Linked DNA regions of Homo sapiens. Changing the gene in region 1 together with any one later gene gives a genetic interaction. Each region holds a gene or a part of one and is shown on either strand. Other genes may lie near its edges. The genes, in order: DUT and COPE.

Region 1 (3,813 bases):
TCTCTTCACACCACCAAAAATATTCATGGAGAATTATTTTATCTAAAGCTGTCTTTTTAATAATAAAATAGCCACCTCTACCTTCTTCATAAACTTTTAAGATGAATTGGTAATTCATCATAGCAAGGTTGATTTTAGAAACTAAAGTTGCATTAATTCATTAAATACACTGAAAGTAATTTTGTATGCTTGGTCACAAAGAAAATATAAAAACAATTTTATAAATAGATTTGCAGTTATTTTCTTTCAATATTTTCTTAGTGCCTATGATTACACAATACCACCTATGGAGAAAGCTGTTGTGAAAACGGACATTCAGATAGCGCTCCCTTCTGGGTGTTATGGAAGAGTGGGTAAGTCATTTAAGAAACAGGTAACTATTTGTCAAGTTCTCCTTTGTGATAGATTCTTCATGTTTCATTTGGGGTAATAAGCAGGCAATATTGCTTGGGCTGTGTCCTAAAAGAAGCACCATTTGTGATAGCAAATGCACTCTTTGAAAGGCTTTATTTACATCTCTGCTTTGCCTCTTTTTGACCCTTTTATTTTTCTCCTTCCTCACTGGAGCTTTTAGGCTCACACTGGCCTAGAAGGCTGTTCTCAGAACATGGCATTTTATATTATGAGAGTAAAACTTCTGACCTGTTGGTCCCAGAATGTGTAAGCCTACTTAACCTTTTCTTGTTTGGCCATGGGGTTAGGGTAAGGGATACTCTTCAGTGTTGTAGAGGCACTGGGAGGAGCTAGGACAAAATGGAGTACACGTCAACAGGTTTGATTTTTCTGGAGCGGATCAGTTGTTACCAGACAGTTCTTTGCAAGAGCGTAAGTTCTTTTTGACTAACTTCAGAGTAAACATAAAGGAGGCAATGGAGCTGTGACGCCCTCCTCCAGGGAAAGGAGCTAGACTGGCACTATATTATTAGCCATGAGTGAGGAAACTGCCAGTACTTCAGCCCTTAAAAGATAACAAGATGGGCTCTCATCTCATCTCTTGAGCATCATTGACTCCATTTTTTAGAATTTTTTCAGGGGAAGGGGCAGGAGATGGAGTGAAATAAAGGTTAGTACAGAAAGAGGCAGCATTATTGACAAAGTGCCTGATTTAAATTATTCTAAAATAAAATGCTGGAAGTTAGGATAATTAATTATAGGCCTGATGCTTGAGTCTGCAATAATAAGGTGTAACCTTAGCTTTTTATTTTTTTCATTTTTTAGGATTAAAAAGTATACTAGCATTGAATCATTGAGACTTAGTTTTTGGCATTTTTACTTAACTGATATTAGCCCATTTATCTTACTCTGGTTCATGTGTTTCCTACAGGCATGTCTTTTGGCATCTGAATCATGAATAGTGGGGTCCCAAGTTGTAGGCTATGGTCTGCTACTATTTGGTTAGGTTTGTTTCCCTCTCCCTTCCTCTTCCTTTCCCTTCCCATCTGCATTGTACATGTTGTGGTGTCCCATCTTAAAACCAAAGTCTTCTTCCTCAGTAGTGTGTTCCTGCTGGCCATACTTCTCTTTCTTCCCCTTTGAGGCTTAACTTCTTGAAAGAGCAGCCTACAGTTGTTCCCGCTTGCTCACCTTTCAGCTCATTCTAGCAGTCCTTCTCCCCTGTCTGCAGCACCACAAATTCTGACTGAAGTCACATGGGAGTGGTTTAAGTTAGTTTTGAATTAAAACCTTGTGGAATTTTTCTAAACTAGTCTTTCCAACTTTGGTAATGCAGTATGATGAATATATATTCTTTAATTCAAAACCATGTGCTAAAGTTAAGATGAAGATATAGATATTATAGGTGAAGAGAATGACATGCTTAAATTGCATCAGTTATCTCTGATATAGCCCTTCCCCCTTAAAATAACCAATGTCTCCTTTTTTGTTTTTTAGCTCCACGGTCAGGCTTGGCTGCAAAACACTTTATTGATGTAGGAGGTAATATATTTCCTTTTTTATTCTGTAAATGTTTGCAAGTATTTACTTTGTCTTTAAAAGGTAATATTCAAATGACAGATTTTATTTTTAAGAAAAGAAAATGATTAGAGGAAAGCTTGTTATAATAGGAGGAAAAGCTTTGTGGTTATTTTAAGTAATTATATTTTGTTTAACTACTAACTTAATTTTTAAAATAATGATTACCTAATTAATAATGACAGATTTAATGATATAATAATTAAGTAATTATTTAAGCAACAAAAGTTCTAGAAAACACAGGTCTATCTTGTAAGAATTTTCTTCATAAGAGAGCTATCTGTCTTTAGCAAAATTTAAGAAGAAAATCTTTCCCTGAAGTCAGGAGAGAAAACACTTTTCTCTAAATTTGTTAAGACAGTCCTCTGTGTTACCTGTTTCCCTTATAATAAAGCCTTTCTCATGTTTGTCTCAAAGTTAACCCTACCTCATGTGGTACCTTTCATGAAGAACCCTCAGTGTCCTCTGCTAACTACTCTTGATACAGAGCTACTCCTCTTATTGTAAGGAAATTTCTACTTTCCTGATGTGGTTTCCTTGTTTCAGGTCCGCTCCAACTGGGATTCAGACCCCACTTATGTGGTCCTTACATACTGACCCTTTATCCCATCAGTAGTGAATCTTTCACTTAACAAGATACCTTGGCCCCCACATAAGTAGGTGTGCTAGATCTCCTCCTCCACCCGTTTTTACAGAGCTGCTTTATGGAGGCTTGTTAACAGATCAGGAAAACTGGCTTAGAAATGAGCCCACATGGATATGTGGTAAAAACTGGAGTCTCTGTGTGATTCCAGCCTCCTTGTTCTTTCCACTGCAATTAATTGTGGAGATTACCCTGCTGCATCCCCCTCACCAACTAAACACGTCCAGAATTAGCTCACTTTTATGTGCCACTGCAAGGGCTAACTAAGCACTTAATGAAACCTGGCTATCCTAGACCTGCCCCTTAGTCTAACATTTGGTGGGTGTGGTGTCTCTCCATAGTGTCACCAGGTGGTGCTGTGGGACAAGACAGGACCCCAAAAGTACACCCTTTAGGGACTAAAGGGGAGCTGAGTTTTACATAGCAGGGTGGACATTGACAGCCCACTCTTGGGTTGAGGATTCCTTGGGCTCTGTAAGTTATGCCCGATGTTCAAAAATGCTTTTACAAGGTCAACTGTGGTCATTTTGGGACAGTAACTTAAGGATATAAATAATTGTATATATTTTCAATGAAGTTTCAAATGATTGTTCAAGGAACGGGAGCTTTGGAATAACAACTGGATGTAGGTCCCAGCTCTGTCATTAACTAGTTATTACTTAACCTTTCTGAGCCTGTTTCCTCATTTTACAATGGAAATTAGTGTGCCTGCCTCTAGAGGTAGGAGGATTAAATGATAATGTGTATGAAATACCTAATATAGTACTTGGCACATATTAGATTCTGTGAGATATAATTTCTGTCCTTAGGGACTTCACAGATTGTTTTTATGTGGAAACTTTTTCTTTTATTCGACTTTGTTACTAATTTTTGCTCTGTTTAAAACAACTTTCTGGAAAAAAATTCATGTAAAAGAATGGAAAGTTAGTTTGCCTAGTGGTTGGTATGGTGTTATTCATAAAATCACATTGTGGTGTGTTCTTGGATGCAGAGAATCTTAACAATCTCCCTTAGGCACAAGTTTATCATAGTTGGCAACAGTTTTTATTTCTGAAGAGAGATGTTGTTAGAAATCCCAGGCTCTAAATAAGGGTCAAAGGGAAAAGTTGAGCATTCAGGATTCTGTTCAGAATTCACATCTGGTAGGTGTGGATAGTTTTTCACTAAAAAAGGTTTCCAACAAATGACATGCCAAACTC
Region 2 (3,687 bases), on another chromosome or scaffold:
GTGATCTCAGCTCAATGCAACCTCCGCCTCCTGGGTTCAAGTGATTCTTTTGCCTCAGCCTCCCAAGTAGCTGGGATTACAGGCGGCTGCCACCACGCCTGGCTAATTTTTGTATTTTTAGTAGAGACGGGGTTTTGCCATGTTGGTCAGGCTGGTCTCAAACTCCTGACCTCAGGTGATCCACCCGCCTCAGCCTCCCAAAGTGCTGGGATTATAGGCGTGAGCCACCACGCCTGGCCATCTGCAGTCTTTATGAAGAGTTTATGTTATGTTAAATTAAAAATATATATATATTTTGTAAAGACGGGGTTGTTCTTGCTGTGTTGCCCAGGTTGGTCTCGAACTCCTGGCCTCAAGTGATCGTCCCACCTCAGCCTCCCAAAGCATTAGGATTATAGGTGTGAGCCACCATGCTTGGTGGATTTTTTTTTTTTTTTTTTTTGAGATGGAGTCTTGCTCTGTCGCCCAGGCTGGAGTGCAGTGGTGTGATCTCGGCTCACTGCAAGCTCTGCCTCCTGGGTTCATGCCATTCTCCTGCCTCAGCCTCCCGAGTAGCTGGGACTACAGGCGCCCACCACCATGCCCAGCTAATTTTTTGTATTTTTAGTAGAGATGGGGTTTTGCTGTGTTAGCCAGGATGGTCTCAATCTCCTGACCTCATGATGCTGCCCACCTTGGACTCCCAAAGTACTGGATTACAGGCGTGAGCCACTGTGCCCAGCCTGGATTATTATTTTTATAATCAGAAAGGACATCAAAGCTTTTTCCATTTTGGAGAAACGAATTTTGGGGGGTTTTTTGTTTGTTTTTTGAAACGGTATGCCACCATGCGTGGCTAATTTTTGTATTTTTTGTTAGAAATGGGGTCTCACTGTGTTGTCCAGGTTAGTCTTGAACTCCTGGGCTCAAACAATTCTCACCCTCCTTGGCCTTCTAAAGTGCTGGGATGATAGACATGCGCCAGTGCGCCCAGCTGAGAAACAGTTTTAATCTAGTGACAAACACTGGTGAAGCCCTCCTCCCTGTCTGACTTTCCAGGGGCTGAGTTATCATCAGAAAGTTGTTTGCAGAGCGGGGCTGGCCAAGGGGTATCAGGCTGGCCCCATCACAGGCCGGGTACTGCTCCTCCTGAGCAGGGTCCATCTTTAGCTCTGAGCAGTCAGGGCTAGTCAGGAACTCCCAGCCTGATGTGCAATCTCAGACAGGCTGTGTGTCCCTCGCTGCCCCAGGGGCAAGACTGGCGCCCTCCTCCACCACCCTGCCCCTCCCTGCCACCTGAGAACACTTGGATGCATGTTGTGTTCATGGCCGCATCCTCTGGGGGCTTTTGTTACACCTCTCAGGTGACACGTTCCGTGACTCACCAGTTAGATGACTCCCTTCTGTCCTTGTCTCTTGAAACACCACCTGGGGCTGGCTGGCCGTGCCCCTTGGCCCTGGTGGCCTCCCCGTGGCTGTGGTCACCCTGCATTCTTGCTGGGTTTTGGGAGGCACTCAGGTCCCCCCACTTCCCTTTGGAGCCACCTCATGGCTGCTCCTGTGAGCGCAAGCTGGTGTCCCCCTTCATGGTGGAGACTGAGGCTCAGAAAAGTCCGGTCTGCAAAAAGGTGCCCTGCCATGGGCCGCCGTGGGCAGGTCGGGCTCTGGGCGCATCCTCGTTGGTGTGTCTGTGCTCCAAGCAGACACCAGGGCTCTGGCTGGGTCTCCTGGCCTAGATGTTTCCTAGGGTCCTGTGTGCTGGGAGCCTAGAGTGAGTGAGTCAGGCAAGGTCCCCTGCCGAGGTCTCCTTCAAGGCTCCTTGGGAGCTGGTGCAGGGGTGGCAGGTCTGCCCATGGCCTCGGGGTTCGTTGTACAGCAGGAGTTGAGGCCATCTGGGTCTGGGCCCCATGGCTTTGAGATGTGTGGGACAAATACAACCTTCCCAAGTCTCTGTAAACAAGGGGTCGTACCCCAGGCTGGACTACAGATGGGGAAACTGAGGCTCAGCGAGGCGGCTGGCCCCTTGGCACCGTATCATCTGAGATCTCCACCTTGCAGAGCGGTGGGCGGTGTCAGTCCCACCCCACCTCTGAGGAGGTGACCTTGTGTGGTGCTGCCTGAGGTGGGGGTGACGGGCAGGCATGGGGGCTGGAGTGGCTGACCCTGCCTCCCCGTGTCTGCCTGTGTCTCCAGGATAGTGGCTACCCAGAGACGCTGGTCAACCTCATCGTCCTGTCCCAGCACCTGGGCAAGCCCCCTGAGGTAAGCGGCCCCCAGGGCTCCAGGCCAACCCTAATGTCCAGACCCTGGGACCCCAGCCTGGGGTCCAGGCCCTAATCCCTAGGCCCCTGGGAAAACTCTGTATACAGTATGCCTACCGCAGCCCACCTCCCTCACAAACCCTGTGCCCCCCAACCCATCCTCACCTGGGGCCCTGCCCGACCTGCTCCCCTGAACACCACAATACATCCCCCACCATGTACGGAGGCCAGCTCCATGCCAGCGCCTCTCCAGGGGGCAGGCCCATCCCTCCACCCCCACCCTGAAGGTTCTCCGAGATCAGCCCAGTCCCAAGGCAGGGTGAGGAGCCCCCTGGGGTACTGTGGCTCTCACCCCAATCCACCCCTGTCCAGCAGGTCAGAGCCACCGTGGGGTCCCCGTGTTCGGCTCACCTGCCTCCCTGCCTCCCCTGCAGGTGACAAACCGATACCTGTCCCAGCTGAAGGATGCCCACAGGTCCCATCCCTTCATCAAGGAGTACCAGGCCAAGGTGAGTGGTGGGGATGGCCTGTCCCCGAGAACCAGGCCAGGGGGCGCCTGGAGCTCAGCCTGGGCTCACATGCGCCCTCTCTCTCTCCCTCCACCTGTCTCCCCACACCCTGCCCCCACCCTGTGTTGCCATGTGTCTTGCTAAAGGAGAACGACTTTGACAGGCTGGTGCTACAGTACGCTCCCAGCGCCTGAGGCTGGCCCAGAGCTGTCAGGACCATGAAGCCAGGACAGAGGCCAGGAGCCAGCCCTGCAGCCCTCCCCACCCGGCATCCACCTGCATCCCCTCTGGGGGCAGGAGCCCACCCCCAGCACCCCCATCTGTTAATAAATATCTCAACTCCAGGGTGTTCCACCTGATGATGTGCTCTGGTCACTTTGCTGGGGGCGTGTGGGAGCTGACGCTCAGGGAGAGTCCTGGGGCACTGGCATCCAGGGCTGTTCCTGGAGACCAGGGTCTGTGACGAGCAGCAGGTGTGCAGACCCCCACCCCGCCCCTCACACAGCCACAACCTGCTCCTGCAGGCCAGAGGCAGCACAGCCCTGTCCCCATGCTTCACCCTGGCCCCTAGAGGCCACTGAGCAGCCCTGGTTGGCATCGGGGGAAACTGAGGCACAGAGAAGTCATGCCGCTATCATGAGGGGCACCAAGATTCAAAATGAGAACCCCTAGTGGCCTGGAGGAAGTGGGGGCCAGGGCAGGAAAAACTCAGGCCTCAGCTCAGCAAAGCCGGAGGGGCCCTGCAGGGTCAGCGTTAACCCCAGGTGCTGCTCCTGCCGCCCCGCAAACCCTCCTCCAAGGCAGAGTCCTGCTGTGGCAGGGTCCTGGGGCCAAGCACCCAGCCGCGATGAGAGGCGGCCGCACCATTTAGGGAGGGAGGTGGGTGGGTGGCAGCAGGGCTGGCCGGAGCCTCCCAGATGTCACCATTGAGCTGTGCC

What was found.
Region 2: changes in DUT (region 1) and COPE together harm fitness more than expected from each alone (negative genetic interaction), as found in Homo sapiens cells (one large-scale study listed by BioGRID).

What each region holds. Positions count from the first base shown.
Region 1 is NC_000015.10:48,334,156-48,337,968, forward strand, and holds part of DUT (deoxyuridine 5'-triphosphate nucleotidohydrolase, mitochondrial isoform 1 precursor), read left to right. Parts: intron 1-261; coding exon 262-353; intron 354-1,890; coding exon 1,891-1,935; intron 1,936-3,813. UniProt on the Homo sapiens protein: Catalyzes the cleavage of 2'-deoxyuridine 5'-triphosphate (dUTP) into 2'-deoxyuridine 5'-monophosphate (dUMP) and inorganic pyrophosphate and through its action efficiently prevents uracil misincorporation into DNA and at the same time provides dUMP, the substrate for de novo thymidylate biosynthesis.
Region 2 is NC_000019.10:18,898,935-18,902,621, reverse strand, and holds the end of COPE (coatomer subunit epsilon), read left to right. Parts: intron 1-2,172; coding exon 2,173-2,241; intron 2,242-2,674; coding exon 2,675-2,749; intron 2,750-2,895; coding exon 2,896-2,943; 3' UTR 2,944-3,108; downstream 3,109-3,687. UniProt on the Homo sapiens protein: The coatomer is a cytosolic protein complex that binds to dilysine motifs and reversibly associates with Golgi non-clathrin-coated vesicles, which further mediate biosynthetic protein transport from the ER, via the Golgi up to the trans Golgi network.